3 separate regions of the Homo sapiens genome follow, and all the other regions are linked to region 1. The links come from fine-mapping of genetic effects on gene expression. A gene starts in region 1. Each other region holds a variant in brackets. All regions are shown on one strand. Distances are from middle to middle. Region 1 holds the start of ESYT2 (extended synaptotagmin 2). Region 2 has its middle 9.5 kb from the start of LINC00689. Region 3 has its middle 18 kb from the start of NCAPG2.

Region 1 (8,183 bases):
ATAATTTAAAAGATATTTTTAAAATCTCTCTAAAACTGTCAACATAATCACTGTCAAGTTTCATGTGAATCCTTCAAGAAGCGTCTTAAGCATCCTAGGCACACTGAAGTTTACACATGTGGGATTATGAGCTCAAGTACAAATTTGGAATAAACAAGTAAAACATTCTGGAGAAAATATAAATTCTTCATGAGGTGAACACCACAGTTCATCAGTTTAAGTCACACAGATTAAAAACTTGAAAAGAATCTTTGGCTAAATTACTTTTGTATTTTTTTTTTTTTTAAAGAATTTCAGGCTGGGCGCAGTGGCTCACACCTGTAATCCCAGCACTTTAGGAGGCTGAGGCGGGTGGATCACGAGGTCAAGAGATCGAGACCATCCTGGCCAACATGGTGAAACCCAGTCTCTACTAAAAATACAAAAATTAACTGGGTGTGGTGGTGTGCGCCTGTAGTCCCAGCTATTCGGGAGGCTGAGGCAGGAGAATGGCTTGAACCCGGGAGGCGGAGGTTGCAGTGAGTTGAGATGGTGCCACTGCACTTCAGCCTGGCAACAGAGCGAGATTCCGTCTCAAAAAAAAAAAAAAAAATTTCAGTTCTTCAATAGGGCAGCAATTTCATCTGTACAGTCTGTGTGGCCGGGCGCGGTGGCTCACGCCTGTAATCCCTGCACTTGGGGAGGCCAAGGCAGGCGGAACACAAGGTCAGGAGTTTGAGACCAGCCTGGCCAACATGGTGAAACCCTGTTTCTACTAAAAATACAAAGATTAGCTGGGCGTGATGGTGCACGCCTGTAATCCCAGCTACTCGGGAGGCTGAGGCAGGAGAATCTTTTGAACCCTGGAGGCGGAGGTTGTAGTGAGCCGAGATCACGCCATTGCACTCCAGCCTGGGCAACAGGGAGAGGCTCTGTCTCAAAAAAAAAAAAAAAAGAAAAGAAAAAGAAAATCTGTGTTTCACAAAGATTTTTAACAAGCAAATTTGATATTAGCCAATAACCAAGTATCTATGAAAGTCAGCATCATCACTTCCTGCAAATTTCAGCACTGATAACATTGCTATGTTATCAATATAACATAGCAATGGATGCTAATGGACTCTGTTTTTAGCTACTTTTTAGTATTATGCATCTTAGTGTAATATAGACACAAAACGTCACTTTAAAGTCCTTTTCCATTTCCAAAGTGCACCTCCTCTGTTCTTAGTTTTCCCCACCTCGGTTCCTCTTAACTTCCTTTTTCTACACACCCCTCGGTTTTTCCCGCCGCTAGCTAAAAGCTGCACCATGCCAGTTACCTTGGTTCTCCAAATATGACTCCCTCATGCTCACCACGCATCGGCAGAACTGTACATTCCCAAGCTCCTTACATTATATTCTTACTCCAGTTGCAATATGACGTCACAAAGTAGCATCTACTACCTTCTTCTTGTCTTGGGCACGCCTCCTTTCTAATTCTTGTTTGCCATCTGTGTCATGCCTTACTTCTCAGGTGTCTCATGACTGGAAACAGGGACTTTTCTCCTCTAAGAGAAAATGACCCTTCCGAAACCCACTGCTGGTCACCTTCACCCCAAAGTTTATATTAAGCCTAATGGAAGAATCATTAAAATCCTTTCTTGCAGTGTGAAACTGTGAAGCCAAGTCATGGCTAAGAAAGAATTAGGGAATGACAAGAAAAAGATTTGAAGCCAACTCTTCGTGTCTATAGTCCATAAATATACGAGGTAGAGAACTGCCGGGTTAAAAATAAAATAATACCATGACTCTTGTTATTGCTGCAACTCTTCCAAAACTTCCTGCCACACACACACACATTCACACTGGATTCAGGTCGATCCCATATAAAAATGCTCAGTCTCACAATTATACTTGCAAAAAAACTGAAACAATCTTTCAATTATCTAATATCTCCACATCTTTCGAGAGACACTTACTGCCCTTGAAATGCGTCAGAAACAACCAAGACACGAGTGCGTCTTCTCCCGGTAGAAGAAAAAGTTAACTTCTCCCCCACCAGCTGTCATTACGTTTTTTAAAAAACAGAGAGAAGGAAAAGCTGAAGCCACCCGGAGCATTTCCAGGCCGGCAGGGCTTTGGGAATGCGCACGAGAATCGCGCTGGGCGCTCTGAGAGCAGAACCGGCCGCTCAGGCCCCTAAGGAGACCCCGCGGGCGGCACCAGGAGGAAGCGCGCGCTCCGGGCAGGGCCGCGGCCGAAGAGGGGGCGCCAAGCCCGGTACCTGCCGCTGGCGCTCGGGGTCTGCAGGCCGGGGGAGGGAAGCGGGCTTTGTGAAGAGGGGTCTCCGAGAAAGCCGCGCGGGACGGCGAGGGGAGGCTTCACGAGGGCAGACGCGCCCCGGACCCGGAGCCTGGGCGGGCGGGGAAGCGGAGAAGGGGACGCCCGACTTGGACGGAGGGAGGGCACGGAGCACTCAGGACTAGGGCGGGAGCGGCGAGCAGCGGGCGGCGGCCCCAGGCGGACAGGTTCGCAGGGAGTGGGCCGGAGGCCGGGGCGGGGCTGGGGTCTGCACTCGCCCTAGCGGGCAGGTCGCCAGCAGGCTGGGAGTCGGGGCCGGGGGGCGGGGCGGGGTCTGCACTCACCTAGGTTGGCAGGTCGCAGGAACCGGCCCGGGGGCCGGGGCTGGGGTCTGCACTCGCCCAGGCGGAAGGGAAGCGCCTGCCTGGACCGGGGTGGGTGGGGGACTACGAAGGCGGGAGCCGGGGCAGGGCTGGGGTCTGCACTCACCCAGGCGGCAGGTCGCGGGGAGGGGAGTGCCTGCCTGGACGAGGGGAGATCGGGACTGGTGGTCAGGGGTCGGGACGGGCAGGGGTCTGCACTCACCCAGGCGGGCAGGTCGCAGGCGCGCACCCCCAGGCGCACGACGCGCTCCTCGTCTTCCAGCAGCGCCAGCGCGCGGCACAGGCGCAGGGCCTTGAGGCCGCGGCTGCGGCGACACCAGGCGAGCAGCGCGAGCGCGAGGAGAACCCAGCTGAAGCTGAGCCCCAGGTAGCCCAGCGCGTACACGGGCAGCAGCAGCGCGAAGCTCCGCGCCAGCTGCGCCAGCAGCCCGGGCAGCTCCACGCTCAGCACGCCCCCGGGGTTCTCAGGCGCCGCGCGGCCCCCAGCCCCGCCGGCGCCCGCCTCCGGGCCCTCGCCCCGGGCGCCGCTCATCGCCCCGCAGTGCCGCGCTGCCCTCCCGGCCGAGGCGGGCTGGGTGCTCGCGCTGATCCCGGGCGGCTCAGCCCCGCGCCAGCGCCCCTCTGAGGGGACGCGGCTCCGCCGCACGCCCGCCTCCGCCCGGGACGGTGGCGTCATCACGCGGGGCGGGAGCGGCGTGGGCCTGGGGCTGGCACGTCACCGGGAGCGGGCGGGGTGGATACTGACGTCATCGCGCGGGGCGGGCCGTGGGCCGGGTCGGAGACTACTGGAGTGGGCCGGGCAGGCGCACGACGTCATCACGCGAGCGTTGTGTCTCGGCTGGCGGGAGCCGGGGACGGGAAAGGAGAGTGCTCGGTGCGTGGGCTGGGCGTGCCTGCGTCCCCTCGAGCCCCACGGGGCACCCTCCCCACTTGCCTGTGGCCTCGGAGCCCGCGGGCGGTTTTGGCTCGGCGTCGCGCCCCGAGGCGGCTTCCGGGTGCGTGGCTGCGCTCGCCGAGGCCCGGGAAGTTGCCGTCGTCAAACCCAAAGGCTGACCGCCTCTGGGAGCTGCTGGCAAACGTGGGGGTGCGCGGCCGCTGAGCGCAGCCGGGGTGGCGGTGGGATGAGAGGGCGGCGTCCCTGTTTGCGGTCATTTTGCGGCCAGGAGGACGGGTGAGAGGGCGCCGCCCGCCGGAGGTCGGACGGGCGCCGCTGGCGGGAGTCCTCCGGTATTTTTCGGTGTGAGGTTGCCTAGCCAGTGTGCAAGGTTGTGGCTTTTGCGGAGTCTCTCGGGACGGTCTTGTTATCGGGCATTCCGGCGTGAGAACGCTGCCTCTGGGGCCCTTCCCACCCTGCTTGTCAGGGTTTTAAACACAAACGACTCCGTTGTGACCTTGACAACTCTCACACAGTTCAGTTGGCTTTTAAGATGCCTTTAATCCCAAAAGTCCTCCCTGAGGGGTCTGGTAGTGCCGGGCAAAGACCACCGCAAGCGCCCAAGGGACGCTGTTGACACTCGGGAACTCCACCCCGGGCACCACGCAGCTTCGCCGAAGGTGTTAATATTGTGGCCAACTATGAATAGCTGTTTCAAACGACTAATTTTGGGCCTTTCCTGTGATTCCTGAGGTCACTTTTCAGTTAACTCAAAAACACAACTATTGATCACTTTACTTTCCAGTGAATTCAATCGAGTTAATTATATTTGTTCTGTAGTTTCTTTCAAGGAAACTCCAAGCCAAACAGTAGCAAAGAACATCCTACTTGACTGTTTTTGAGCATATTCAGTGAATTCCAAGGAAATTTTTACTGAATTTGTAACAGAGTAGGGCACTGGCAGGTACTGAATGAATAAACAAATGCCCAGAAGAAGCAGGGTCACCTTTACATAGGAATCTGTCTCCCCTCGTTCCTGCGTCTTCATAATTTTGTGTGCATATGTATGTGGAGATTATATCACATATGTAAAACATTGCAGAGTCTAAACTCTCAACTCCAGGCAAGGGCAGTAAACCCCAAGCAAGGAATGGAAGTGGTTTCCCTTTTCTTACTCTTCACAGTCCCTGGTTTGCTGCAGCAACAAATTATATTATGTAGATTGTAAATATGCAACCGGTTAATGCTCCTAACACCACCTTTCATTCAAAACTAAGCCTCAACACAAAAGCAAGTAATTGCTTTGTTGACACAGAAAGGAGCCTGAGCCTTTCTTTTGCAGCTTTCCTCTACTGGAAAATTGTAGGATCACATCCTACAAAGACTTGCATAAACATAAGCCACGTAAAAAATTCTGTAATCCCAGCACTTTGGGAGGCCGAGGAGGGCAGATCACGAGGTCAGGAGATCAAGACCATCCTGGCCAACATGGTGAAACCCCGTCTCTACTAAAAATAACAAAAAATTAGCCGCGCATGGCGGCGCGCACCTGGAGTCCCAGCTACTCGGGAGGCTGAGGCAGGAGAATTACTTGAACCCGGGAGGCGGAGGTTGCAGTGAGTCGAGATCGCACCACTGCACTCCAGCCTGGGCGACAGAGCAAGACTACGTCTCAAGAAAAAAAAAAAAATCCTGTGCCATGTGCCATCCAGTGGTTGACCCAAGGATGTAAACTAGATTGAAGAGAAGTTTCCATGTTGCATACCAGTCAGCCCAAGTGTCCTCAGCTTCCCTCTGTGTGAGCCCCGGGTTTCCAGCCCCTCCCTGTGGTTAATTGCCTGCAGAAAGCAGATCCTAAGGCTCTGCCACAGCTCAGTCTTACAGGTGTCTGGTCTGACTGCAGGTCCAGCTCGGCTCTTAGATTTTTGCTAATATTATACCCCTCAATCTCCTGTGACCTTTCATGACCCCTCCATCCTTTCCTTCTTGTAGACAAGGAGAAGTGCTGCTTTCTCTGGAGTGTCATTCCGAGTGCTCCGGTGCACAGCTGCGAAGTTCCAGCCTTCCTGGTTTCAGAGGAAAGTGCTATCTTGTGCTTAGGTTCAACTCTTCCTGCTTTTGGGTCCTCCCCCACACCTCTAAATACGTCTCGTTATGGAGGGTGGGAGCACGTGCTCTGCATCTCTTCAATTTGGAGGTTATACCAGCAAATTAAATATACTGGGGACAGTGAAAGCCAGGTTTCTTGCTGTTGGAGAAGGTAAAAACATGGAAGAGGGAAGGCTAAAAAGAACACTGAGGGATTGGATTGGAACTGGAAGTGGTAGTATGAACTCATTTTTTTAAAATATGTATATACAGATAGATATAAAGATAGCTGTATGTGTGTGCACACATGTGTAGGTATATGTGCATATAAACACAGAAATAGTTTCTAGTTCTGTCTGCTGAGTATCTAGATGCAATGGTACCCCAGTACCAGTGATCACAGCTAGCCCCCAGATCTTATCTTCTAAATAAGGTTTTCCAACAAAAGGAATCAGGGCTCTTTGGAGAAATGGTTAATTTCAGGGCTGGAGTGGAAGTACAAGATGATCCTGGAATAATTTTGTTGTTCAAGGAAGTGAAGAAGTGCTCAAAGATTGACAGGAGATCAAAGGACATGGAAAGTAGTTGGAGGGAGTTCTTGCTGGCGAAATCTAGGACAATTTGAGCAACAAAACAAAGAATGATATTGGCAGATTACCACTGAGTGAGCAAAATAGAAACGCATGAGTTGAGTCCACACTGATGTAGATCAACAAACCAGTGATGAATGCAGGGAAAATAATAGTGGAGAAGGGGAGGTTCTTCTTTACAGTAGAATGTGAACTCATAAATGGAGAAGGAATTATGAGAATGGAAATAACCATTTACCAATCACTGTAGTGGGGTTGTTGCAGGAGTGAGAATGGAAATAACCATTTACCAATCACTGTAGTGGGGTTGTTGCAGGAGTGAGCTATCAATGGAGGCTCAGGGTGGTAGGTGGAGATTTGATGAGGAATGAGAATGGACATCTTTCTTCAGCATACTTTTCCATTACAAAGAGGAAAATTGAGACTTTCTGGTGGGAAACACCAGCAGACACCAGCGTGGCCAGGTAATGAGACACCTGTCACCAGTGGAGAAAAGTTGAAACTGAGTCCCCGTGCACTGTGCTGAGAAGAGCACAGCAGCACGCCTGACACTTTTCTGCCAGAAACCACAGCCTCAGTCTAGCCTAGGGAATATCAGATAGACCCAGAAGGAAGGCCATTCTGTTTTCTTTATTACTGTCATGAGCCAGGAACAGTGGCTCACGCTTTGGGAGACTGAGGCAGAAGGATCACTTGAGGCTGGGAGTTCGAGACCAGCCTGGGCAATGTAGTAAGACTCCATCTTTACAAAAAAAAATCTTAAAAATTGCCCTGGCATGGTGGCACGAGCCTGTAGTCCCAGCTACTAAGGCTGAGGCAAGAGTATTGCTTGAGCCCAGGAATTCAAGGCTGCAGTGAGCTATGATTGCACCACTGCACTCTAGCCTGAGTGACAGAGGGAAACCCCTTCTCAAATAAATAAATTGTCATAAGAGACAGGATAAGACTAAGAATTGTTCCAGATTATATGAGACTGAAGAGACATAACAACTCCATGCAATGCATGTTCCTGGGAGGTCCCAGACATGGGAAAAGAAGTGTGGGCACAGTTGGTGAAGCTTGGGTGGGGTCTATGGGTTGGACAATGTATTGATATTGATTTCTCCACTGGGAAGGTTGTGTAGTGGAGGTGATCCTTGTTTTTAGAGTATTTGGGGGTGCCGTGGTTTGAATGTGTCCCTTCCAAAATTCAGATGTTGAAACTGAATGGCCAAGGCCAGGTGTGGTAGCTCACCAGTAATCCCAGCACTTTGGGAGGCTGAGGCAGGAGGATCGCTTGAGCCCAGGAATTCAAGACCAGCCTGGGCAACAATGGGACCCCCATCTATACAAAAAATTTAAAAATTATCTTTGCATGGTGGCATGTGCCTGTAGTCCCAGCTATTCAGGAGGCTGAGGTGGGAGGATCATTTAAGCCCAGGAGATCAAGGCCGCAGCGAGCTCTGGTCACGTCACTGCACTCCAGCCTGAGCCACAGAGCGAGAACCTATCTCAGAAAAAAAAAAGAAACTTAGTGGTCAGTGTGATGGTATAAGGAGGTGAGACCATGAGGTGACTAGGCCATGAGGCTCCTCCCTGTGGATGGAGGTAGTGACCTTGCAGACGAGGCTTCTGGCCAGGTGAGCACTCAACACTCCTCCCCTCACCAACAGGGTGCTGTCTTGGAAGCAGAGGATCCCTCACCAGACATCAAACCTCTTGGTATCTTTTTTTTTTTTTTTTTTTGAGATGGAGTCTCGCTCCGTCGCCCAGGCTGGAGTGCAGTGGCGTGATCTCAGCTCACTGCAAGCTCCGCCTCCCGGATTCACGCCATTCTCCTGCCTCAGTCTCCCCAGTAGCTGGGACTACAGGCGCCCACCACCATGCCCAGCTAATTTTTTGTATTTTTAGTAGAGACGGGGTTTCACTGTGTTAGCCAGGATGGTCTCTATCTCCTGACCTCGTGATCTGCCCGCCTCAGCCTCCCAAAGTGCTGGGATTACAGGCATG
Region 2 (8,183 bases), 170 kb after region 1:
TCACAATACCAAAGACATGGAATCAACCCAAACGCCTATCAGTGGCAGACCAGATAAATAAAACGTAGTTCATATACACCATGGAATACTATGCAGCCATAAAAAAGAACAAGATCACGTCCTTTGCAGCAACATGGATGGAGCTAGAGCCCATTATCCTCAGCAAACTAATTCAGGAACAGAAAACCAAATACCGCGTGTTCTCACTTACAGTGGGAGCTAAACATTGAGAACACATGGACACAAAGAAGGACTAACAGACACAGGCATGACTTCAGGTGGAGGCGGGAGGAGAGCAAGGACCGAGAAACCACTTACCTGGTGCTATGCCTATCACCTGGGTGACAAAACAGTCTGTACAGCAAACCCTGTGACACGCAATTTACGTAACAAACCTGCACATGCACCACTGAACCTAAAAGTTAAAAATAAACATGCAAAATACGGAAAGTCAAAAAGCATGTTAGGATTAAAAGAAATCATTTTATTTATTATTGATGGGGGCATTACTTGTTATGCCAATTACAGTTTGTTATGATGTCACATTTCCCTGGAGGTTTTTGGGAGATGGAAAAACACGAACAACAGCAGGGCTGGAGCTGGAGCTGCAACGTGATGGTTCCTTCCTCCTGCCCTCGGGGGCCAGTGCCAACACCGCAGCAGGTGCGGGAAGAGGCCTTGGCGGGACACGTGCTCTGGAGTAAGGCTTGGTTAAAGCTCTGGCATCGGTTTTCCACACCACGCCAAAGTAGACAAAGGTAAGCTGCCGGTGGCGCCACATTTCAGGGCTTGCTGGGGAGAGTGAACAGAAAGGACCAGGTGGCCCAGGGTCACTTACTACAAAGCGAGGTGTTGAGGCATTTCTTCCTGCAAGAAGTCATAGCGGGAGGCCGTGGCGGACCCCACCACGCAGAAGGCTTCCCTGGTCCACGTTCTGATCCCACGTCCTCCTCGGCTATTCCCCTGCTGCTGACCACCTGTCCCAGCCTCACCTGAAAGCACATCCCGTCCTCCCATCCTCAGTCCCAGGAGCATCACTTGCTGAGGGATTGTCACGGCCGCGAGGCTTCAGCCCGAGTGCTGGAGTTGAGAACCTGGCCTTGGGCTGACTCTTGGCAAAAATGTGATTTCCTCTGTGTCAGACAGACCCTGGTGTGTCTCGTAGGGCCCTCGCTTCCCCCTTTCCTGACGGGCCCCCCGCGACCCTCGCCTCCCCATATTTCCCGACGTGTCCCCCTAAAATGTTTTTAGGTGAAGATACTGAAATGTAATAAAACTTATTTTGCTGCAGATGCCGAGGGTGTCTGCACTTTAAAGGATATTCCATTTGAAAAACACATTTCTAGTGGTGAAGTTTCATCCCAATGACGAGACTCATCCTGGTCAGTCTTTTTTCTGGGGCTTGGATAAGGTGAGGCAGCCCGGAGCCATCGCGGGCCTGGCCTGGCTTCCTTGGGGCACCTTCTGTCCTCCAGCCCGGTGGGGTCCAGCAGGCCACTCACACCTGGCTTTGCTTCATGGGGACTTTGCTGCCTCTGGCATTGTCCACTTGAGCCCTGTGGGCGGCTGAGACAGCCAGGGCTGCGGGGGTGGCTCTGGGGGACTCCTGGCCGGTCGCGTCCATTAGGATTTGACCCCAGAGGGACTGGGTGTGAGAAATATGGGGCCAGGCGGCTCCCCTGCTTCTCCGCTTCCAGGGCGGGTTCCATGATGGCCTGTGTCCCCAGCGGATAAGAAGTGCAGCCCCGTTTTCAGAGCAGGGTCGGGGGAGGACAGGGCCTCACATTGCTTGTCAGAGGGGTTGCACCGGTGGTCGTAGCTTGCACAGGCCCCTGGGGTCTCCCTCCTTTGTTGGATGCAGGCTGCTCCCACCGCCTTGGCTCTCCCAAGTTCCAGGTCTAGAGTCTCCATCACCTGCTGGAGAATTTCACTGAGGGCCGCCCAGGCTGCCCAAGCTCAGCGGGTCCAGGAAGAGCCTGGGTCCTCCCCGGTGTTGGGCTCTTGCTCCGAGGATGGTGGATGACGCTCCCAGCACCACCGTCCGAATCCAAGCGAAGGACCCATCCTCGGCCGCTTCCCGTCCCCCTCACCCGCCAGGACCTGCCGGCCCAGCCTCTTCACACCCCGCGGCCTCTCACCGCGTGGCTGAGCCTGGGCCGCCGTTCGGACCGCGCGGCAGCCTTCGATTCTGTGACTCTCCTCGCCTCGAACCCCCCACGGTTCTCAGCATAAAGCCCAGACTCCGTGGCTGGTGGAAGCAGCAGCTCCCTGGATCGGTCCTGGGCATATTTACAGCTTCGCTTTTTACCCTGGGATCCACTGTTCGACTCGCAACACCTTTCCGGAGCCCGGCGCTTCACTCGCAGCCTCGCAGCCTCGCAAACGCCCGTCCCTGCCCCCGGGCGCGTCCCAGCCTCCTCGGGTTCCCACGCGCTCCGGGGAGCCCCTGCCGCAGGCGCCTTCTGGAGCGGGTCCTGGGACCCGTTTCCTTCTTCCCCTGGGCAGCCCCCGCGGGTCTTTCACAGTCGCTTCCGTCCGCGATTCCTGGGGCTCCTGCCGCTTTGTGCCCCTTTGTCTCCCACAGCACACGCCTCCCAAGTGTTGACTTTTGGGTCACTGGGACAAAGCGTCCCCGCGAGGGGATTTGCTGGCCCTCTGAGATTTAACTGGAAACCCGTCTCAGTGGGAATCAGGGCAGAAATAGGCAAGGGACCTTACAGACAAAACGCCCCTCGGCACGAATGTAACTGCACCGTGATGAAGGGTGAATATGCCACCATCTGCCAGGAAGGCTCATCGGGCAGAGGGCTAAGGGGCAGGCTTTGCAGCAGTTAAGCTTAGAGAAAGGAGGGACACGCGGCGCCTTACACAGTCCACAGAAGAGAGGCCGTCCCTCGGCGGTCCCCTCCGCTGGGGGTCCCACGCACATGTCCTCGGCCCATGCCCCTCGGCCTTCCTGGGGTTAGCTCTGACCAGAAGACAGGGCTCTGCTCACCCTCGCCGCCAGCTGCGCACCCACGGTCTAGCTTCTGCGTATCAGCCTCTGGTGACTTGGATTTGGGGACCTCCGGAGGAGTGCGAAGGCTGGTGGATGAAGCTTGGAATGTGGATTTCGGATGGAAATCCCAGTGTGGGGGGCCCCCTCCACACCCCCGACCTGCGTCCACGCTCCCCTCTCCTCAGAGGGACCCCCCCTCCACACTCCCCACCTTCATCCACGCTCCCCTCTCCTCAGTGGGGACCCCCCTCCACACCCCCACGTGGTCCACGCTCCCCTCTCCTCAGTGGGACCCCCCTCCACACCCCCATCTTCATCCACGCTCCCCTCTCCTCAGTGTGGACCCCCCTCCACACCCCCCACGTGCGTCCACGCTCCCCTCTCCTCAGTGGGACCCCCCTCCACACCCCCATCTTCATCCACGCTCCCCTCTCCTCAGTGGGACCCCCCTCCACACTCCCCACCTTCATCCACGCTCCCCTCTCCTCAGTGGGACCCCCCTCCACACTCCCCACCTTCATCCACGCTCCCCTCTCCTCAGTGGGACCCCCCTCCACACCCCCCACGTGGTCCACGCTCCCCTCTCCTCAGTGGGGACCCCCCTCCACACTCCCCACCTTCATCCACGCTCCCCTCTCCTCAGTGGGGACCCCCCTCCACACCCCCCACGTGCGTCCACGCTCCCCTCTCCTCAGTG[G/T]GGACCCCCCTCCACACTCCCCACCTTCATCCACGCTCCCCTCTCCTCAGTGGGACCCCCCTCCACACTCCCCACCTTCATCCATGCTCCCCTCTCCTCAGTGTGGACCCCCCTCCACACTCCCCACCTTCATCCACGCTCCCCTCTCCTCAGTGGGACCCCCCTCCACACCCCCACGTGTGCCACGCTCCCCTCTCCTAAGTGTGGACCCCCCCCCACACTCCCCATCTTCATCCACGCTCCCCTCTCCTCAGTGGGGACCCCCCTCCACACTCCCCACCTTCATCCACGCTCCCCTCTCCTCAGTGGGGACCCCCCTCCACACTCCCCACCTTCATCCACGCTCCCCTCTCCTCAGTGTGGACCCCCCTCCACACTCCCCACCTTCATCCACGCTCCCCTCTCCTCAGTGGGGACCCCCCTCCACACTCCCCACGTGCGTCCACGCTCCCCCCTCCTCAGGGGCTTGTTTTCTGCCCAGGGCCATTTCCTATGGCGAGGGAACGAGTCAGGAAGCAGTGATTCCACTCACGCTCCAGGTTTTCCTGACTCACGCAGACGCTTAACATCTTTTCCTTGGCTCTTATTTGTAGCATCTAACAACGTCCAGATCACCTGTAAAATGTGCAGCCTCCCCTCTGCCTTCAAGAGGCAGCTGAGGTCCTGTCTTGGGTCATTGTGTGGTTCTCAGGAGGTCTTCAGGAGCCCCTCACGTTGAAGGTACCCAGTGTTTCCCTGACCAACAGAAGGTGTTTGTTTCACCACATTTTCCTTACGTTCTTATGGAAAAAATTTAATCCTTAAAACGTGGCTTTCTGCTAATAAAGAAAGAACAAACTCCCTACGTATCTTAAGAAACAGTCAAAACGGCTTGCTTGCTAGTCTGAAATTCTTTCAACACATATACATGAAAAGAGAATTATTCTTTGACCCAGGATCTTCTGAGGCCAGGCGGGTGTGGATAGGTGTCCTCTGTCCTGACAGCGGCTCCTGCCCAGTCTGGAGTGCTGGTGGTTTATCTGCGTGGCCTCTGCAGCTCTGTGTGCTATGCGCGTCTCGAGGTGGAGAGACTTGGTGTCTGCATTCCTGGGTTCGTGCTCTATTTCCACGCACAGGTGGAAGAAAAAGAAGGGCGAGGCCGCACAGTGCTAAGACGCAGGCTCTGGGATCACACTACCCGGACCCAATGCGCGAGGCTGCCCCTGGGGCTCCGCCCCATCTTCCCTCCTCAAACCGCCCCGTGCTCGTTCCTCCCCCTGGGCCTGTGAGGAGAACCCCTGGCTTAGCGTTTCTGTCCAATGCCAGAAACCAGCGGGTGGCTAGCTCCATTCTACCCAGCGCTCCTGACTGACCCTCATCAGCCACCAAAACTTTTTGTTGTCCTGGCTCAGTCTTGAGCGGATCGTTGCTAATGTTACTGATCATTTCACATTCCCAGATGATATTTCGGAGCCCCTCCGCTCCCCACCCGGCAGCCTTGTGAGTCACATTTTCACAGAGAACACACTGCTGGGAAACCTCCTGCTGAGCTCAATGTCTCACCTGGATTCTTGTTAGTTCTGATTTCCAATCTTCAGAGGTGGCATTTTCCGATTTTTCCTTCGTACAATGTATTCCTTCATTTGACAAATACGTGTTGAGTACTTGCCCTGTGACTGGCCCCGTGGACAGACACAATAGGGAAGCAAGATGGAATTCCAGGTCCCGAGAGGGTGAAAGAACGGGGGACGGCCTGGCGATCATGACGCCATCCACGGTTAGGTCTTCTTAGCAGGGGTCCAGGAACAGCTGGCTCCCTGAGCAGGGAAGAGTGCCAGCATAGCCAAGATGCTGAGAGTCCAAACCCCTCCGCAGACAGCGGGTGGAGGTGGGACCAACTGCTTTCTCTGAGAAGAGGATGAAATGCCAACATCCATGTGGATGCGCCAGAGGCAGCCAGAATCTGTGCCTGCCCCCTGTGGGTTTTCTTTTCTCTCTTTAAAAATGTTTTATTTTTAAATTTTGTGGGTACATAGTAGGCATATATATTTATGGGGTACATGAGATGCTTTGATACAGGCATGCAATGCGTGCTGATCACATCATGGACAATGGGGCATCCGTCCCCTCAAGCATTTATCCTTTGTGTTACAAGCAATATAATTACACTCTTTTAGTTATTTTAAAAGAGCTAGGGTCTTGTTCTGTTGCTCAGGCTGGTCTCAAACCTCTAGGCTCAAGCAATCCTCCCACCTCGGCCTCCCAAAGTGCTGGGATTACAGGTGTGAGCCACCATGTCCAGCCTCTTTATTTTATCTTTTTCCCGTTATCACGGGTTGAGGCTGCAAAGTGTTGTCAGTATCATCTGCTGGTCAGTGTGCAGGAAGTAACATCCCCAGGGAAACATGGAGCCCTGCGATGGCCCTGATGGCTTTTTAGATTACGATGGGCTGTGTTTGGAATGAATATAGTGGGAATTGCTAACCTGTGGTTTTCTCTCCTTTGACAGTGTCACCAGGTGAATTAGTACAAAAGGTAGGAGACAACTGCCCGCCCAGACCTCGTCAGGAGGAAAACGCAGGCCTCGCTTCTCAGCAACCCCCTCTAGAGCTCATCAGAGTAAAATCGTCCATTACAGTTTCTCAAATTCGCCACCTATGTGAAGACACAAAATGAAAACCCTAGAGACCCCGCCAGGCCCTCATTTCCTTCTCATCCCCAAATTTGTCCCTCCAGGAAGTGCAGCCAGGAAAGCCGGTGCTTGGAGCCTGGCTCACCCGCCGCGGAGCTGGGGACCTCGTGCACGTCACCGAGGCTCTCCGGGGCTGTTTCCTAATCTATGAAATGTGGTTCTTTACTCACAGGTCTGTTCTGAGAAGTGAATAACAGGACGTCTTCTGCATGCCCCGACCCCTGACAGCTTTCGGCCACTCAGCAAATGCAACGTCCTTCCTGGCTCAGGTTCTCTAGTTTGCTTCTGAAAGGGGCCGCACTTCTTGTCATATCCAATAAGGCCTGTTTTTGTTCTTTCCTAACGCACCTGCCTCACCTCTGAACAATATCATTTTTCTATTTTGGAAATGATGTATTTTTGGCATGAGGAAAATGAGAAAGTTTACCACCCGTGCTGAGAGCCGGCCTGCCTGGCAGTGGCTGAAGATGCTGGAGAGAGCTGCTCTGAACTTTGCTGACTGGAGCGAGACTTTGCATTTGGGAGACTTTATGCAGCTTGGAGCTCCACAAAGGCCGGTTCCTCCTCACTTCCACTCGATGCCTCCCTGCTGCTGTCCTGAACAACTGTCCTAACTTTGTTTGTGGAGTATTGTCAGAATTCACTTCTCCAAATGAAGTCTCTTCTTAGCACGAGACTTTGGGGTTTGCTCACTGCGGTGGCTGTCCAATGGTCGATGGCTGATGCCCTTGCAGCGTCTCAGTCCCTGGTGCCTGTGAGCTCCCCAGGGTTCCTGGATTCCTCAGTCCTGAATCAGGAGGAGAAGGTGGTAGGAGAGCCCATGTGTGTGGGTGGCCTCAGCCCCAACCCCCGACCTCCAGGGCTGCCCGTCTCCCCGTGTGAGGAGGGGCTGCACAAAGGGGTCCCTAGGTCTCTCCTGCTCAAGGTGCCTGTGCTCCCGTGACTGCAGCCGCTCATCGCCAAGTTCTGAGCTTCCACAGGCTCAGTCTCAACCACGGACCCGAGGGTCCCTTCTCTGTGGCACCACAATTCCAAACTTTCATTTCAGAAGGATGAGAGGCTATCTGGCCTAGCACTGGGCATCTGACCTAGCACTGGGCATCCGGATACTTCAGGTTTATGAGCTGAGTGCACAAATTGTAAGTGACACTTCAGAGGCTGCCAGATTGAGACAGATAATTAGCTACACCAGTTACTTTTGAAAATTTAATGGTATGTGATGAGCACGTGTTGGATCATCACTGGATGGATACCTTCTTCACACATATAAATGGTAATTTATCTACATGCAGATGGTTAAGTCAAACCACAGCCCACCCAACAGTTCTAGACAGATTCTCACCGGAAGCTTCTAGGGGGGCTCATTTGACAGAATTCCACGTCTCTAAGCAGACATGCCCGAAGGTTCAGACCCTGTGGCCGGAGAAGCGCGTGGAGCAGGGCTCCTCCCTCGCCCCGTCTGGTAAGTGCTGTGGAGTATTTCAGCTTTTCTTTATCCTCCAGAGGGGGCTTGCTTTTGCCACCTTGTTGTAGTTGTTTAAAATTCATACATACATGCAGACACACTGTTGCTGAGGTAACTTGATTCCCTCATGGAACCAGGAACCTGGAGACAGGGTTCCCATTGCTTTGGTTTGGCCTAGTGATGTGTCTCTGCCAGATGCACTCTAGGAGGTGCCTGCAGGGCCACGGGATGCTGGTCACTGCTATAGGAAAGAGGTGAGGCAGTGTCTGTGTGCAAGTTATGCTCAGGCCTTCAGACAGCGCAGCCACGAGGCACAAACTTCTAGGGATAGGCCACATCCAGACACAGCTCG
Region 3 (8,183 bases), 110 kb before region 1:
GAGAGCTTCCCCATCACTGCCGCGCAAACCGCCTCGTACATAGTAGGTGCGTGTTTCAATGTTGCTGAATGAATCAAGAGCGCTAAACAGTATTTTGGTTGTATTTTATATTTTGAGAAAGTCAATGAGATGCTTCACAGGTTTACGTTCTCAAAGCAAGGGAATATGAGCGGAGAACAAAAACTTCCTAGCCAAGCACAGTGGCACATGCCTGTAATTTCAGCACTTTGGGAGGCCAAGACAGGAGGTTGCTTGAGCCCAGGAGTTTGAGACCAGCCTGCACACATAGTGAAACACCCATCTCTACAAAAAATAAAAAAATTAGCCAGGCATGGTGGCGTGTACCTGCGGTCCCAACTACTTGGGAGGCTGAGGTGGGAGGATGACTGGAGCCCAGGAGTCTGAGGCTGCAGCGAGCTGGAATTGTGCCACTGCTTTCCAACCTGGGCGATAGAGGGACACCTTGTCTCAAAACAACAACAAAATAACAGTTCCCCAAAGCTGTTTCCTACACCTGAGCAGAAGGAATGAAAAGCCTTTACGTAGCTGTTCTGCCTTACAAAACATACTTTGTTAGCAACTGACGCTAGTATTTACATATTCAGAGAATTATGATGAGACGCATCCAGCGCACTATCTCTGGGCAAATTTTTGGAAGAATTATTGCATAATAAGTGATCCAAGAAGCTTATGCTATTATGTTTTAAGTTAAAATATTCATCTAGAGATGGACATGGTAATGCACAACTAGAGTTCAGCCACGCTTCCTTTCGGCCGGAACCGCCATCTTCCGTCATTGGCCCAAATGACCAACAGGAGGGGAAAGGGGAGAGGCTCCCGATGGATGTTCTCTGGCCTTTTAGAAAACGTGGAGTTGTTCCTTTGGCCACGTATATGCGAGTCTATAAGAAAGGTGATACTGTAGACATCAAGGGAATAGATATTGTTCAAAAAGGAAGCTCCGCAGGTGTGACCGCGGCAAAGCTGGGAGTCGACCGCGTTCTCCAGCGTGCTGTTGCAAACAGACAAGGGCAAGATTCCTGCCGAGAGAATTATGTGCGTATGGAGCACACGGAGCACTCTAAGTGGCTTCCTGAAATGTGTGGAGGAAAATGATCAGAAAAAGAAAGAAGCCGCAGAGAAAGGTACCTGCTTCAACTAAAGCTGCAGCCTGCTCCACCCAGAAAAGCTCACGGTGCGAGAACCAAGGGGAAGGAACCTGAGCTGCTGGAAGCTATTCCCTGTGAATTCATGACATCATAGGTGTTCAAATAAAATAAAATAAAAGACCTCTGGACCGTAAAAATGTTTGTCTTCATTGAGTAGAAGTGTGGCGTCCTCTCCCCGACAGAAATATTTAAACCACATTTTAATCGTGTCCTAATTACGTAACATTTTTACTACTCAAATTTAATAGATTAAAATCGACTCGAAAGTTGTAAGGTGGCTTATTGTGCAACAAATTACTCAATTGGTTAGAAAACGGCCAGATATTATTTATGAAACATTTGTACTGGTTTGAAGACAGTCCCTCTAAATCATTACGGAAGGAATTAAATAATTTACTCTCTCTCTCTCTATATATATATATAACTATATATATAACTATATATAACTATATATAACTATATATGTAACTAAACTATATATAACTATATATAACTATATATAACTAAACTATATATAACTATATATATAACTAAACTATATATAGCTATATATATAACTATATATAACTATATATAAAACTATATATAACTATATATAACTAAACTATATATAATTATATATAACTATATATAACTATATATATAACTAAACTATATATAACTATATATATAACTATATATGTAACTATATATATAACTAAACTATATATAACTATATATAACTAAACTATATATAACTATATATAACTATATATTACTATATATAAGTAAACTATATATAACTATATATAACTGTATATAACTATATATAACTATATATATAACTAAACTATATATAACTGTATATAACTATATATAACTATATATAAACTATATATAACTATATATAACTATATATAACTATATAACTATATATAAAACAAAACTATATATAACTATATATAACTAAACTATATATAACTATATATAACTATATATAACTATATATAACTAAACTATATATAACTATATTTAACTATATATAACTATATATAACTAAACTATATATATCTGTATTTAACTATATATAACTATATATATAACTAAACTATATATAACTATATATAACTATATGTATAACTAAACTATATATAACTGTATATAACTATATATATAACTAAACTATATATAACTATATATAACTATATATAACTATATATAACTAAACTATATATAACTATATATAACTATATATAACTATATATATAACTAAACTATATATAACTATATATATAACTATATATAACTAAACTATATATAACTATATATAACTAAACTATATATAACTATATATAACTATATATAACTATATGTATAACTAAACTATATATAAATATATGTATAACTATATATATAACTATATATAATTATATATATAACTATATATAGCTATATATAACTATATATAACTAAACTATATATAACTATATATATAACTATATATAACTATATATATACTTAAACTATATATAACTATATATATAACTATATATAACTAAACTATATATAACTATATATATAACTATATATAACTATATATATAACTAAAGTATATATAACTATATATAACTATATATAACTAAACTATATATAACTATATATAACTATATATATAACTAAACTATATATAACTATATATATAACTAAACTATATATAACTATATATATAACTATATATAACTAAACTATATATAACTATATATAACTAAACTATATATAACTATATATAACTATATATAACTATATGTATAACTAAACTATATATAACTATATGTATAACTATATATATAACTATATATAATTATATATAACTATATATAACTATATATAATTATATATATAACTATATATAACTATATATAACTAAACTATATATAACTATATATATAACTATATATAACTATATATATAACTATATATAACTATATATATAACTAAAGTATATATAACTATATATAACTATATATAACTAAACTATATATAACTATATATAACTATATATATAACTAAACTATATATAACTATATATATAACTAAACTATATATAACTATATATAACTATATGTATAACTAAACTCTATATAACTATATATAACTATATATATAACTAAACTATATACAACTATATATAACTATATATGTAACTATATATATAACTATATATATATATAGTTCCAGCTACTTGGGAGGCTGAGATGGGAGGACGCTTGAGCCCAGAAGCTTGAGGCTGTAGTGAATTATGATCATGCCTGTGAATATCCATCACATCTCTTAAAAAAAATCATAAATAAAAAGCTTTCACCTTTCAACTCAGGGTCGAAGAAGCTTGGAGAATCATGGACAAGTGGAAGTGAATCTTGAGCCAAACAAAGAGGTTGTTTAATAGTAAGCATTGTCAGA[G/A]AGGTTACAGAGAAGCAAAGCACCCATCCACTGATGGGGCTGCCTGCAGGGAACAGAGGGCCTGAGAGCCGTACCTTTAGTTTGTTTAACTAGAGAAATGGTCATCAACAGCTCTCTTTCAGAGTAGAGTCTCTTTTCAGTGTAGAGACTGGAATTGAACTTTGTAGGCCCTGACTGTGTCTGTGTGGGCCACAGCCATCCTATGCACTTCTCTGTAAGTCTGAGTTAGCCCCGAGGCAGCATCGTCATCCAGAACCCAGGCCAGTGCTCCCCACTCAGGTTAGACTTAGACTCTAGGAAGCTGTGAGCATGTGCTGTGTGCATGTGTGTGGACTGTGTCGCGTGTTATACTGTTGTATGTGTGTTGTGTTGTGTGTCCTGTTATCATTGTTTTGTATGTATATTTTGTGTTGTGTTGTATTGTGTTGTGTTGTCTGAGTGTGTGTAGTATGTCTTGTGTGTTGTGTATATATTGTATGATGTATTGTTTTGTGTATTTGTGTGGTAGTGTGGTGTTATATGCTGTTTTATGAATGTGTGGTATGTGAATTGTATATTGTGTGTATGTTGTGTGTATATTGTCTGTTGTGCAAGTGTGTGGTGTGTTCTTGGTTGTCCATGTAAATGTGTGTGATGTGTATTTTGTTGTGTGTATTGTTTTGTGTGTATTGTGCGTTATGCATGCATGGTGTGTATATATTGTTTGTGTTCTGTGTTGTATCTGTATGAATACGTGTGGTATGTGTTGTGTGCATATTGTGTGTTGTCCATGTGTGTGGTGTGTGTGTGATGGTTCTCACGAGAGACTGGGAACTGAGACCAGCCTCTGCTGTGTCTGATCCAAGTGAGGTTCAGACGCCGGTCCCTATCCCTGTTGCAGAAAAGCCTGTGAACACTGGCATGGGGCTGCGGCGTCGCCAGCCTGGTCTGCGGTGCCCTCATGGTTATGGAAATGGAAGGAGCCAGGCCTGAACGGGGGTGCCGTCCACTGGTGAACTGCGGAGCCCAAGTGTTCATGCTGGGTGCAGGTGAGGCCTCTGCTGTGAGCCTAGAAGTCCTTCCTGCCTACAGGCCTGGGCTCGCAGGCCGAAGACACGGATGCAGCTGTGGTCATGGGTGTGGACTTGGAGGTGGGCTGGCTGTGAAGCCTGATTTGGGCCTCATCTGGTATCAATTCTTTCTGTATTAAGCTTCACTTACACCCAAGTCGTCAGTCAAACCTTGTTAAAAGGCACCATGTTGCCTCTCACAATGTTGAATAAAAGCAGCCAGACACAGGAGAACCCACTGAACGCTTCCACTTCCATCAAGCTCAGAATCTGAAAAAACACATCTGCAGGGCGAGGCGTCAGGAGCGGAGTGATCCCTGGTAGGGTGAGGGCAGAACCAGCAGGGGCACAAGAGGGTGCCTGGGGCTCTGACGTTGCTATTTCTTCTGACGGTGCTGGTTACACAGGTGTGTTCAGCTTGGAAATTCATCAAGGCAGTGAAATAGGATTTGTGCACATTTCTGTCTGCACCTATGCTACCATGAATAAAAGAAGAAACTGCATGGCCTCATTGTACTGTGGAGAATGAAGGAGGCCCCAAAAGGCCAAGTGGAGCCCTGGGGGACTTCACTGGGGATACACAGGCCCAACAGACGCATGACCTCAAAAAGGTGGGGGTAGCCAGGCACAGTGGCTCACGCCTGTAATCCCAGCACCGTGGAGGCCGAGGCGGGAAGATCACATGAGCCCTCTGGACCAGGAGTTGAGACCAGCCTGGGCAATGTGGCAAAGCCCCATCTCTACAAAATATTAAAAAATTAGCCAGCTGTGGTGGTGCATGTCTGTAGTCTCTGCTACTAGGGAGGTTGAGGTAGGAGGATCACTTGAGCCTGGAAGGTTGGGGCTACAGTGAGCTGTGTTCATGCCACTGCATTCCAGCCTGGGCAACAGAGCAAGACTCTGTCAAAAACAACAACAACAACCAAAAAGGCAGGGGAGTAGAGGGCCTTGTTCTTGGACAAATGAGTAGCAAATGCTAGAAGATACTGAATAGCCAGGTATGTGGGGAAGGAATCTGGAGTTGGAGAGGGGAGAGGCACCTCTGACAGTTAGGTTGGTGGAAGGTTCATGCCTTAATGATTTGGGGATTTGAGTATAAGAGAAAGTGTAACACTATTGTTGTCCTAACCTAGTGGACAAGGAGGGGAGGGTGCCACATTCTGATAGAAGTTGAGGACAGAGAGTGGACGTGGTGGCTGATGATCGTGCAAAGCCGAGGACAGAGAGTGGACATGGTGGCTGATGATCGTGCAAAGCCGAGGACAGAGAGTGGACGTGGTGGCTGACGATCATGCAAAGCTGAGGACAGAGAGTGGACGTGGTGGCTGATGATGGTCCAATGCGATGGGCCAGTGCTGTCCTAAGTGCTTTCCAGGGATGACCTCACTTCATCCTCAGTTCTGCCTTTGAGGTAAGGACTACAGCGATTCCTGCTCTGCAGAGGGGGAAATGGAGGCAGAGAAGTTACTTGACTTGCTCCAGGTCCCGTGGGACGGAAGTGGGGCTTGAACCTGGGGGTTCTGACTCCAGAGCCATGCTCTACCCCACTGGGCCTCCCTGTTTCCCAGACTTGAGGTCCTGCAAAATGGAAACGTAGACCCTCTAGAGAGGTGTTTCTGTTTAGGGCCTGACATGTACGCAAAGACAAAAAAGTGACTTTATCCTTAGTATTTCTTGTAGGGCACGCTGGCTCACAACAAGTTCTCTTAAAAAAAAAAAAAATCTGACAATGCCTTAGTTTCTCCTTCACTGTAGACAGCTGTTGCCGACAGGATTCCTGGCTGACAGGCTCTGTGAGCACCTTGAATCCCTCATCCCTCTGCTCTGCCTTCAGGGTTTCTGATGAGAACTCAGCAGTTCGCACTGCGGAGGCGATGAGTCTTTCTCTAGTTGCATCGTCTTTTCAAACAGTTTAACTAAGATGTGCCTGCGTGTGGCTCTTTCCAAATTAGGGAGTTTTTGCTTATTATTTCTTTCAGTGTTTTCACTGGTGCTTCTCTCCCTCCTCCCCTTCTGGAACTCTCACTGCACGTATGTCAGGTTCGTTTTTCTTTATTCTTTTTGTCCCTCAGACTGGATAATCTCGATGGAGCCACCTCCAAGTTTGCTGATTCTTTCCTCTGTCAGCTCAGATACATGGGTGAGCTCCCCTAGTGAATTTCACATTACACTTCTTTAAACCCCAGGCTTTCTGGTTACTGTTTTCGTAATTTCTCTATACTGATCTTCTCTGTTTTGGTGAGACATCATTTTCATACTTTCTTGTAATTGTTGACATGATTCCCTTATTCCCGTGAACACGTTAAAAGTGGATTCAGGGTCTTGTCTTCGTCCACATGATGTCCAGCACCAGGACTTCCTTTGGGGTGGTTTATCTGACTACCTTTTTCCTGTGTGTGGCCTTCACTCTGCTGTTTCTTTGCATGCCTCATCCTTTTTTCATTGAATCTGGACATTTAAGATAATATACTCCAGCCTGGCCAACATGGTGAAACCCCGTCTCTACTAAAAATACAAAAATTAGCCGGGCATGGTGGTGGGCGCCTGTAGTCCCAGCTACTCGGGAGGCTGAGGTAGAAGAATTGCTTGAACCCAGGAGGTGGAGGTTGTGGTGAGCCAAGATGGCACCACTGCACTCCAGCCTGGCAACAGTGCAAGACTCATCTAAAAAAAAAATAAAAAAAAATAAAGATAATATAGTGTGGCAACTCTGTAGACAAGATCCCTCTTCCACTCCTGGCTTTGTTGTTGATGATGGTTGTCACTGTTGTTTCTTTGTGTTTAGTAACATACTTGGACTCTCTAGAAGCTGTGTTGTCACATGCTGCCTCTGAAGCCTCTGCTGGGTTAGCTCACGTGCCAGCTAAGGATTGGAAAGGACTTCTTTGAATACTTCAGACCAGTTGGTCTCCCACCTGCTGCCAAGGGGCCCTGTGCATGTGCTGGGTGCCTTCAGTCTTCCAGCAGGCACCTCACAGCCAGAAATGAGAACTCTTGCAGGTCTTTCCTGGGGATGTGCACAGCCCGGCATGTGCATGTGTCTAGCACCCCAGCAATGCCAGAGTTTTACAAAGCCCTCTGTGGACAGTCTCATCCCCTAGGTTCTCCTTTCAAAGTGTTTGGTTGGCCTCTTGTTTGTCCCAACTGCTACCACTGCCTCAGGCAGCTGCAATGTTAAACAACCGCCACCGATTCTTCTGGACCAACAAACCTGGAGATGGAGTTTTCCTGGGAGCCTGAGAGTTGAAATAGTGACAATTCCCTGGGGATGGAACTTTTGGAGAGCAATAAGCTCCTTCTTTCCCCTCCAGAGGCAGCAAGGCTGCTGGTCATCTGTGCTGTTGCACTTCTAAGGCTGCTGCTGTATGACTTTTTCCATATTTTCCAATAGCTATTGGCATTACCATATACGACACAGACATTTCTACATCCAAATATTTTCCAGATTTTTTTTTTTTTTTTGGTGATGGAGTCTCACTCTGTCGCCCAGGCTGGAGTGCAGTGGCATGATCTCGTCTCACTGCAG

Evidence for each region. PIP is the estimated chance that this variant, and not a neighbour inherited with it, causes the effect.
Region 2: its variant is fine-mapped to the expression of ESYT2 in whole blood (INTERVAL, PIP above 0.99).
Region 3: its variant is fine-mapped to the expression of ESYT2 in lymphoblastoid cells (TwinsUK, PIP 0.95).

The regions. Positions count from the first base shown.
Region 1 is chr7:158,826,245-158,834,427 of GRCh38, forward strand. It overlaps ESYT2 (extended synaptotagmin 2), which reads right to left and starts at 3,265. Exons shown (of 23, transcript NM_001367773.1): 1 at 2,845-3,265. The coding sequence starts at 3,174. RefSeq lists enhancers at 2,039-2,108, 4,119-4,228 and silencers at 2,229-2,428, 2,509-2,558, 2,649-2,838, 2,889-2,988, 3,079-3,808.
Region 2 is chr7:158,994,789-159,002,971 of GRCh38, forward strand. No RefSeq gene overlaps it. Among named protein-coding and RNA genes, the nearest start is that of LINC00689, 9.5 kb to the right of the region's middle. The variant G/T (reference allele first, on the strand shown) is at 3,696.
Region 3 is chr7:158,718,908-158,727,090 of GRCh38, forward strand. It overlaps the pseudogene RPL21P76. Among named protein-coding and RNA genes, the nearest start is that of NCAPG2, 18 kb to the left of the region's middle. The variant G/A (reference allele first, on the strand shown) is at 3,609.